2 separate regions of the Homo sapiens genome follow, and region 1 is linked to region 2. The links come from fine-mapping of genetic effects on gene expression. A gene starts in region 2. The other region holds a variant in brackets. All regions are shown on one strand. Distances are between the middles of the regions.

Region 1 (5,378 bases), 380 kb after region 2:
GCTGCTTTGTTTACCTACTGAAGCCTAGGAAATGGTGGTCGCCCCTCCCCCAGCCTTGCTGTCACCTTGCAGTTTGATCTCAGACTGCTGTGCTAGCAATGAGTGAGGCTCCATGGGTTTAGGACCCTCCGAGCCAGGTGCGGGATATAGTCTCCTGGTGTGCCGTTTGCTAAGACCATTGGAAAAGTGCAGTATTAGGGTGGGAGTGACCCGATTTTCCAGGTGCCATCTGTCACCCGTTTCTTTGACTAGGGAAGGGAATTCTCTGACCCCTTGCACTTCCCGGGTGAGGCAATGCCTCGCCCTGCTTGGGCTCATGCTCAGTGCACTGCACCAAGTGTCCTGCACCCACTTTCTGACACTCCCCAGTGAGATGAACCCAGTACCTCAGTTGGAAATGCAGAAATCACCTGTCTTCTGCGTCGCTCAAGCCAGGAGTTGTAGACTGGAGCTGTTCCTATTCGGCCATCTTGGCTCCACCCCCGCTATTATGATTCTTACACAGAGTACTTTGCTTTCCAGCAGCCTCCTCTTCCTCCTTTTTAGGTTGGAATCCCTCTATTTTAGTGGCCACTGGGATTCTGAAATGACCAGGTCTTTGTCTCAGAGACCTCACACATGCTCTTCCCTCTGCCTGGAACACTTTTCCTTGCTCTGATCCCCTAAGATCTCTTTCAGCTCAACCGCCCCATGATCAGAGACCCCCTTTCTCCCTCTCTAGCTTGAAGCCAGTTTACCCCTGTAGTCTGTACCTGGAAAACTCGTTTTCCTCCTTGATGCCTCCTGAGTTGTCACGGGATGTATGTGCCTGTTTGGGTGTCTGGTGTCTGTCTCCCTGACTGGACTGCATGCTCCTGGTGAGCTGGAGGGACTGGACTAGCGCAGGCCAAGGCCCTGGGGCTGGAGGGAGCAGGGCAGAAGGCACAGGCAAAAGGCCTTTGTGATCCGGAAGGAAGTGAAGGAGAGGGAGAGAGATGAGAGAGGCTGGCAGAAGATGGGCCAGGGGCCAGTCTGCGTGGGATCTTTTGAGCCACAGAAAGACATTTCAATTCTTATGTAAGAGAACCAGGACACCATTGGAGGGTATGAGTCACCTCATCTAACTGAGCTCTGTAAATGTCAATGTTTTATTATTTTTATACAATTATTTAAAAGTGATTCTAGTTATTTACCTTTTTATTTTTATTACTTTTATTTTTTTTTTGAGACAAAATCTTGCTCTGTTGCCCAAACTGGAGTGCAATGGCATGATCTCAGCTCATTTCATCTTCCACCTCCTGGGTTCAAGTGATTCTCCTGTATCAGACTCCCGAGTAGCTGTCGTTACAGGCATCTGCCACCATGCCCAGCTTATTTTTGTATTTTTAGGATAGACGATGTTTCACCATGTTGGCCAAGCTGGTCTTGAACTCCTGACCTCAGGTGATCCACCCGCATCAGCCACCCAAAGTGCTGGGATTACAGGGGTGAGTCACCATGCTCGGCCTTATTTACTTTTTTAAAAAAGATCAGGCCAGTCACAGTAGCTCATGTCTCCAATCTCAGCCTTTGGGAGGCTGAGGTGGGATGATCACTTGAGGCCAGGAGTTCGAAACCAGCCCAGGCAACATAGTGAGACACCCCCTGCCCCAATTTCTAAGAAAATGAGAAAATTAGACACGGTGGCTTGTCTGTATCCCCAGCTACTGGGGAGCCTGAGCTAGGGAGGACTGCTTGAGAGCAGGAGTTTGAGGCTCCACTGAGCTGTGATTATGCCACTGAGCTACAGCCTGGGCAACAGAGTGAGACCCCGGAGCCGCCTCAACCTCCCTAGAGCTGACCGAGCTTTTGCTTCTTATCACAGGGAATGACGGACGCTGGGGCTTTGATGGGCATCAGGTGAAATGGGCAGAGTGACGCTTACCTGGGATGGCAGTGAGGTGGGACGGGGAGGTCATTGTGACAAGGGGCGGCATGAGGTACTTGGCCTTGACGCCCTCCCCGGCCAGACGGTCCAGGTTGGGGGTGTCCACATCCTGATCCTAGTCCCAGCGGAAGCCCTGGAAGGAGATCAGCAGCAGTTGTGAGTGCTCTTCTTCCCTGGGAGGAGGTGGCCGCCCAGCAGGACAGGCAGCGGTAGCAGCAGCTGGAGGGCGCCGAGCCACGTCATCCCACGAGCACCTGTCATGCACTCCTCACACAGTTCATGGGCTTCTCCCTCTTTAGTCCGTTGTTGAACAAAGTCACATTAATAATTAATTCAGCCCAGCTCTGTTGTGGGACAAACAAACTGGAGTGTAGCAAGGTGCTGCATATTTGCAGGACAGTATGAAAGTGTTCTGGAGATGGGTGGGGGAACATGGCTGTACAATGTGGTGGATGCACTTAACACCACTGAATTTTTCCTTTGAAAATGGCTAAAATAATAGATTTTGTATGTATTTTACCACAGTAAAAAATCAAACTGGCCGGACATGGTGGCTTACACCTGTAATCCCGGCACTTTGAGGCTAAGGCGGGTATATCATTTGAGGTCAGGAGCTCAAGACCAGCCTGTCCAACATGGAGAAACCCCATCTCTACTAAAAATGCAAAAATTAGCCAGGCGTGGCGGTACATGTCTGTAATCTCAGCTACTCGGGAGGCTGAGGCAGGAGAATTGCTTGAACCCAGGAGGCGGAGGTTGCAGTGAGCCGAGATTGCGCCACTGCATTCTGACCTGGACGATGGAACGAGACTGCATTTCCAAAAAAAAAAAAAAAAAAAAAATCAAACCACATGAATATTTTGCACTCTTATACTAATTCCAACATTTCAAGATCTGGGGAGAACAAACTAGATTGGTGCTTTCCTTGGCTTTGTATGTTCTGTTTTTATAGGGAGAGCAAATTATTGTTCACCAGCACTATTAAAATAGCTACAACAGGATGGGCATGGTGGCTCACACCTGTAATCCCAGCACTTTGGGAAGCTGAGGTGGGAGGATCGCTTGAGCCCAGGAGTTCAAGATGCCAGCCTGGGCAACATGGTGAGA[C/T]CCTGTCACTACCAAAAAATATAACAACAACAACAAATATAGCTAGGTGTGGTTGTGTGCATCTGTAGTCCCAGCTACATGAGAGGCTGAGGTGGGAGGATCACTTGTGCCCAGGAGGTTGAGGCTGCAGTAAGCCATGATTATGCCACTGTACTCAGCCTGGGTGACAGAGTGAGACCCTATATGGAAAAAAAAAATAAAAAGCTGCAGTGGACTCAGTGATCATGAGGCCAGGCACTGTATACATATACATCATCTCATTTAATTTTTTCTTTGTTTAAAATTATTTTTTCCTCTAATCCCCATGTTGATCGACATTTTTTTTAATCCTAGGAATTATTTGAAAATTTCGCATAAGAATTAAAAATTGCCTGGCCTGATGGCTTACACCTGTTATCCCAGCACTTTGGGAGGCTGAGATGAGAGAATCACTTGAAGCCAGGAGTTTGGGCCAGTCTGGGCAATAAAGCGAGAATGCAACTCTATAAAAAAATTTAAAAAGCTGTGTGTGGTAGCGTTCACATGTAGTCCCAGCTACTTGGAAGACTAGGTGGGAGGATTGCTTGAGCCCAGGCGGTAAAGGCAGCAGTGAGCTATGATTGTGCCATTGCACTGCAGCCTGGGTGATGGAGTGAGACTCTCTCTCTAAAATAAATGAATAAAATTGTGGTATAATATATGCAACATTTACCATTTTGTGTATCTGAAAGTGTACAGTTCAGTGACATTTTGTACATTTATCATGTTGTGCAATTGTCACCACTACCTAGTTTCAGGGCTTTTTCAACACCTCAATTGGAAGCCTCATATCCATTCAGCAGTCACTTTGCATATCCCCTCCTGCAGCCCCTGGAAACCCTTCATCTACTTTCTATCTCTGTCGATTGGCTTAGACTGAACATTGCATATAAATGGAATTGTACAATATATGACCTTTCATGTCTGCTTCTTTCACTGAGCATGTTTTTAACGTTCATCCATATCACAACATGGATAAGTTTTGTTTTCTTTTTAGACCCTATCTAAAAAGAAAAAAAAAATTGTAAAACAAAAACAAAAAAATGTATAGGATGGAGATCATATGAGTCCTGCAAAGTTTATATTTACTATCTAGCACTTTACATAGAAGCTTGCCTACCTCTGAATGATATGCAGGTACAGAGATGACATTTATCTTGGCACTTATAGAAAGACCTATAAATTGTATAAAGACATCATCATTGGATTTCCAGTAACAAGAAGCGGCAAGACATGACGGTGTGTCCAGGTGTTCAGGTGAAGTTTAGGGAAGGTCTTGTCTTGATGAGTTCGGATGTGAGACCCAGATGAGATAACCCCATTTCCCCTGCTGAAATTGCCTGAGAATTTCATTCCAGTTATTTGCGTAGGTTGATTCTTTCGGTGGGGGTGGGGTGGGTGAGGAGGTGAAGTGTCCGGGCAGTTCTATTTTGTATTTGCACAACTTGGCTTTCTTTTCACTTGGTGTGGTGTTTTGCTGTATGAGGAATTTCATAGAATTTTGTGATGAGTATGCAGCATAGTGGTTTGAAACCTGCCAGGCTGAGGGCCATATCTCAGCTCTGCAACTCATTATCTGTGACGCCTTGGGGCAGGTCCCTTAACTCTCCAAGCCTCTGTTCTATATTCCATGGGGTTGTGAGGTTCAGATGAAATAATGCATGCTGGCAGGAATGGTTACTGCTCATGGGATTTCCAGGTGCTCCCTGTATTCCCCAGACCCCCTGTAGTTAGATGGATCCATGCCAGGGTCCAAGGCTTTATAAGTGGAAGTCACTGATATCACCTCTAGTCTACAGCTTTTGAGGGCTTGGGAATAACTATCTCATTCTCTCATCTCCTGGTGTAGTAACTATGGGAGAATCCTTGCATTAACATGGTAGAATTTCCATCATTCTAGGTCTTTGAGTGGCCATATGGAGCACACCATACCCAGCCAACCCATTGTGGACATGGAATGTAAGAAATCAACCTTGGTTGCTAAGCTGCTGAGACTCTGGGGTTAATTTGTTACTGCAGCATAACCTGGTCCATCCTGATGCATGCAGCATGCAAACCACTTATGTTGACCCTTAGTCATGGTAAGTGCTCCACAGATGTTGGTTACTTTTGGTAGGAAGATAGATTGCCTCTGAAAGTTGTGTTAGCTGATCTCATGATGCCAATGTTGCTATTTTGTAATTGGATAAATTGGACTTGGCTCTCCTTCCAGCATGTGGGAGAGAAAGATGACTGAGAGACAATAAGGCACTATTATCTTCAGTTTGTGTCCTTGTATACCCTTGGTGGCAATGAACAATGCATGCCCCTCTGAGAAAACTGGACCTAAAGGAGAATGGGAGATGAT
Region 2 (5,335 bases):
TACTTCTTGGAGCAGAAGGCTAGGGAACACTGACCTTTGACAGGCCCCATGTGGCTCAAGTACTCGCAGCGGCTGCTCCAGTGGTCCAGGGTGGTGAGGATGTGACCAGGGTCACCGGGCAGGGCATGGGTGAGCACGTAGCTGAAGGCCCGCTCCTCGATCCGCAGCCCTGACAGGCAGTCTCGGAGGCTTCGCAGCAAGACCGTGCGCACCAGCAATCGGAAGTAGTGCCGGTACCGCACCAGCAATGTTACCACCAGTGGCAGGAAGGCCAATGCAATGGCAGGGGACATGGTCCCTACCTGGGCCCTGGGGTGGAGGGAGGTAGGGAGGGAATCCCATACCCACAATTTGCCTATTTGTGTAGCTTTTGCCAGTAGCAATTATTATCCTTATATTTCACAAACCACGGCTCAGAAAGGCTAAGTCTTTTGTCCAGAGTCACAGAGCAGAACTGGGATTTGAATCCAGGTTAGTGTGATTCCAAGCCTGTGTACTTTCAAGGACTCTATACTGTCTACTTTCAGCACCCAGCCCCAAACCACCTCTTCCCGGTCCCAACCCCTGGTCCCATCTTCACATTGTTCCCCTGACTTGTTTCTCTTTATCCTTGAAGTCACCCCTTCTTCAGGACCCCTTTCACTAATTCACCTCTGGGATATCTTCCCCCACCCCTACCCTCTGCCTGCCTGGTCTCCTCTGACCACTGCTGTGTAGCAAAAGAGCATAGATTTGCAGTCAAAAACACCTTCACTATCACTGTGCCCTGCCTCAGTAAAATGCAATCAAAATACCCCATAGGGTGTTAGAGTGAGATGTCCTCTTTCCCACCCCAGGACTCTCCCTCTGCCTGCTCTTCCCTGAGGATGGGAGGAGTCTTTGATTCTTTAATAATTCTCCAGCCCCATCTCCTCTCCGCTGTATTCCCCTCTTCTCCTGTGCTGTCTCAGAATTCCCTTCACAAATGTGTACATACACATAACACACAGCACACATTTTCCCTCTACTCAGCTCTTCTCTCCAGGGACCTATGGGGAATGGGCCTCTCCTCCCATGTCCTGGACCATTCTCCTCCTCATCCAGATCTGACCTCCTTGCCGGCCTTCTTGCAAGGCCCCTGGTGATGGCGGGGAGTAAAAATGAAAGAGTGTATGGATGGGTGTGAATAGGTGAGTGATGCGGTGGGCTTGAACTGGTGAGCTTGGGAACCCACAATCCAGGGCCCTGCTTACCTGGGCTGGAGGACCAGAGCACAGGACAGGTCGGGGAGTCCAGGGCCTGCTGCGGGGGATAACCCTGAGGTAGGAGGCTGGAATGGCTTTCAATTATTCATGCTGAGGCTGCTGCTGTCACCTGAGACCTGCAGTTCAAGTTACCAGCCCCAGGGACGAGCTTGAGCTGCCTCCTACCCTTCAGGAACCTCAAAAGATTTACAGAACCTCAGGGTCTTGATTTGAGGGGTTATAAGAGGTATGAGATCTGGTGACTTCTCCAATACTTTGGATCAGAAGATGGGGCATGGGGTGAGCCAAGGTGATGGGGTGACTGTAACATGCTCATTGATATGCAAGTTTTCTGTAAGCAAGGCCATGCCTTGGGCTACAGGGAAGAGTCAGAACCTGTCACTGTGCTCCAGGAACTCCCAAGTTTGGTAGGTGAGACTGACCCAGGAACAGAGAATACAATATAGTGTGATCACTATTGGATGTTCCATGACTACAGGGACTTTGGCTGTTTTGTGAACTGCTGCATATCCAGATATAACAATGTGTGGCACATAGTAGACGCTCAGCAAATATTTGTTGATTCAATAAATGCATGAATTAACACTGGATGAGGATTAAGCATAGGGAGCTGGGCATGTCCAGAGAATGGAGTCAGAGAAGGTAATCAGGAGGACATTGTACTGAGTCTCGAAGACAGTAAAGACAGTAGGCAGACCAGGCTGCATGTACAAAGTCCAGTAGATCAATCAGGAAACTACATTATTTCTCTATGTCCAGTGAAACACATTGCTGACCCCTCCACCCCTCACCCCAGAACATGCAGTGGGAGAGGTGTCAGGCTCTTGTTATGTCAGACGGGTAATGTGCCAAAACAAGATTTGAGGGTGGCACATTTGATACATGCTGGTGAACACCCAATCACACGCTCATGAACAACAAATGGATCACTATACAATCTTGGACGGACTTGGACCTGTGTTCAGGGCCCAAGGGAAGACATGGAGCGGGGGTTAGGAAAAGAGAACTGATGGTCAGCTTTGTGCGTTCGATTACAATGGGTGCTGTTAAAAAAGGCAGAATTAAAGATAAAAGCCTGAAAGCAGAGAGGTCAGTGAGGTGGCTTCTATCTCCTCTACCAGGATTTATCTCCGCTGCGCGTCAGCATGTGAAGGTAGTATAAGGTCCCTTCTTCCTGTAAGTCGCAGATCCCCAGCCCAGGTGGAGAATACACCCTCTGTGTATTCACCCCCAGCCCAGCTGGGCGATACACCCTCTGTGTTCCCCGACTAGGTACTGGTCATCTGGATCATCTGTGTGTGTGCACCCAGACCGTACGATCTGGAGCATCAGGCCTGGATCCCAGTCGCCCCTCGCATGGCATTTAGAAGAGTATATCACAAGGGCATACGAGGGCATTTGGTACGAGTTCGCTCAATGGCCCAGAAAAGTGGCCTAGTGGCCACGAGAACGCATAACACAATTCACGATGGCCACTACTGCCAGTTTAGAGACTGGAAAGATGAAGTCATGTGATCCGCCCCGCCCTTTCCCCGCATCACGTGCTTGCGTGTACGGTTACGCCTTCCCATTGGTTGACAACGATCACGCGCTAGCGGGCGGGACCGGAAGCCGGGGTATTGACTGAGGCGGCCAAGCGGCTCCGGGACAGGGGGTACGGGGGGTGGGGGCGGGTGGTTGCCTGCGGGAGGCCGCCGCGGGTCATGTGACCGGAAGGGCTCCTCACGGACGCCGTCCCTCCTCGGCGCGGCCTGAGCGCCCGGCCCGACCCCGGCCATGGGGTGCTGCTACAGCAGCGAGAACGAGGACTCGGACCAGGTGCGGCCGCGGCAGGCGGGGCTCGGGAATGAGGGCTAAGACACTGGGGCATGGGGCCCAGAAAGAAACCTGCGGAGGACGGGCAGCCGGACTGCAGGGCTCACTGAATACGGAGGCCTGGAGGGGACAGATTACAGAGGAGACGCCAAGCCGGGCTCCTACCCCTGTTAAAGCCCCAGATTTCTACACAGTCCCCGCCTCGGGGTGTGCAGGCAGCCGCCTGTCCGGCTCGCTCCCACCACTTCCGTTTGCTCCTACCTTCAAAACTTTTCAGATTCAAGGATCCTCAGTCTAGGTCCCCGGGAAACACTCCCTTCCCCAGCTTCCTGTGTCTTCTGTGTATTAGTGGGCTTTGCGAATCCATTTTAGGGGTGGGTAAGCTGAGGCCCTGAGTTAGTCTGTCCTGAGATGAATCAGGAATTCGTGTATCGTCTTAGTCCCTGGGGTTGCAGAAGGAAGGTCGCTGCTAGTCTAGGGCCAGGGGACGACTCTGGAAGTTGGTGGCCTTTGAATTGGCCAATGAAGGATTTAATCGATACAGTGAGGACATCGGGACATGTGGGAAATTGTCTGGGAAGCAACAAAGAGGATTTAGCTTTGGCTAGATTGTGGGAAAAGAGAAATGGAGCGGGAAGTTCATTTGGTTCTGAGTTTGGCTTGCCTCAGTGCAGTCTGCCTGGGGCCTGAGGGTTCCTTTAGCTGGAGACATGCCTATTCTGAGAATTTGGCTGTAGATCTGATACCTTTGGAGAAAGGGTTAGGCTGGGGAGACCTGTACAGTTTTAAATTCTCCCTCTTCCTCTTAGTGCATTCTCACTTCTCCCCACACTCTAATCCCTGCCCTGCCTGGCCTGACATTCAAGGATGAAGTCTCAAGTTGCTGTCTACTCTCCTTTTTTGATCGTCTCTAAGCCCGGATTCTACATTTGAACATATAGTAGACCTGAGAGAGTAGAAAGGTTTCAGGTAGCTCACGGTCTAATGGGGAAGATGGTCACAAAAATAGATTATATCACTGGTACTTGGGAAGTAGTTCGTTCTTCAGTGAACGTATTTTGGATTAAGGGCTTAAGCCTAGGAAAATGTCGTTTGTATGGGAAGCAAGGGTGGCTTCTGGTTCTCAATTCTCCATACACCCAATGAACACATATTTCCTTTGCCCTGTGTTAGGCATGTGTTGTGCCTAATACCTCTCACTTCACTTCCACCTTTTTGAGAAAGAGACAACAATAACCCTGCCTACTGGGAGAGCTGTAGCCTAGTGGGAAATTGTCCCTTAAAGCATAATATGGACTCTTGCAGGGAATGAGTCAAGAAGGATTAATGCCGTATGAGAAAGGATACAAGCTTCTACTTGGAAGGGAGAGCTGGGCCTGCTGCTCTCCTGAATCTCTACCTTCTCCTTGGGGGGCTCTCATTTCTGTTCCTAACACCCAGAGAAGGTGCTTAATCACTGCTGGGTGATTTGAGGCCTCATGTAGCAAGGGCCATAACCATCCACCATCCCACAGTCCCTCTTTGAGTTCTTGGGCAGGCCCCTCTCCGACTCTCATCTCTGTCTCTTTATCATAATAAAAAATATACAACACGTTACAGTTTACAAAGGGCCTTCACAGTTATCTAATTTGACTCTTGCCAGACATCCGTCATATTAGTGTGGGTTATGTCTATTGAAAGGTGAGGAAGAAGTTCAGAGAAGCTAAGTGATTTGGCCAAGCTGAGAAGTGCTAGTGCCCAGGTGTTCTGACGCTAGGCCATGTACTTTATCCATGGGGCCAAGCTGTCTCAGCCATGCCCCTAGACCAGGTGGCCAGTCACGGGCAGGCTGCTATGTCTGTGCTAAGGTAGACAGTGAAACCCTGCCTCTTGGGTTACACTAATGCAGAGACAAACCTTGATGTGACAAACCTAACCCATGCTCCACTCGCACTTTGGGAGTGGGGTGATGTTTGTCTGCTCTGAAGTAGGTAGCATGGCCTCTTCTTTAAGTCTGGGTTTCAAGAAAATAACCTTGTTGTTCACTTGATCTTAGCTGAAGGCTGAGAAGTGATCAGCCAACCTTCTTCTTGAAGAACCCCTGATAGGGAAGAGACTACCCTGTCCTGCAGGAAGATCTGTCTGAAGTGGAGCTGGGAGGACAGACACATAGGAAGCTAACTTGGGCCTCATTATGGAGCCAGCTTTCCTTAGAAATACATAGTTTTATCTTTGGCAAACATTTTGTCTTTTTAGCTCTTTAATACTGAGCCTATGTATTTAGGGAGGAAGGGTGT

Evidence for each region. PIP is the estimated chance that this variant, and not a neighbour inherited with it, causes the effect.
Region 1: its variant is the best candidate, but not a certain one, in a credible set for the expression of LAMTOR1 in whole blood (TOPMed, PIP 0.51).

Annotation. Positions count from the first base shown.
Region 1 is chr11:71,718,834-71,724,211 of GRCh38, reverse strand. It overlaps the pseudogene ENPP7P8. Among named protein-coding and RNA genes, the nearest start is that of DEFB108B, 110 kb to the left of the region's middle. The variant C/T (reference allele first, on the strand shown) is at 3,014.
Region 2 is chr11:72,100,910-72,106,244 of GRCh38, reverse strand. LAMTOR1 (late endosomal/lysosomal adaptor, MAPK and MTOR activator 1) reads left to right here and starts at 2,948. Exons shown (of 5, transcript NM_017907.3): 1 at 2,948-3,062. The coding sequence starts at 3,021. It overlaps LRTOMT (leucine rich transmembrane and O-methyltransferase domain containing), which reads right to left. Exons shown (of 9, transcript NM_001145310.4): 6 at 1,233-1,281; 7 at 35-189. TOMT (transmembrane O-methyltransferase) reads right to left here and starts at 321. Exons shown (of 3, transcript NM_001393500.2): 1 at 35-321. The coding sequence starts at 293. It also overlaps the pseudogene LOC124902837. RefSeq lists enhancers at 1,862-2,382, 3,163-3,242 and a silencer at 2,793-3,062.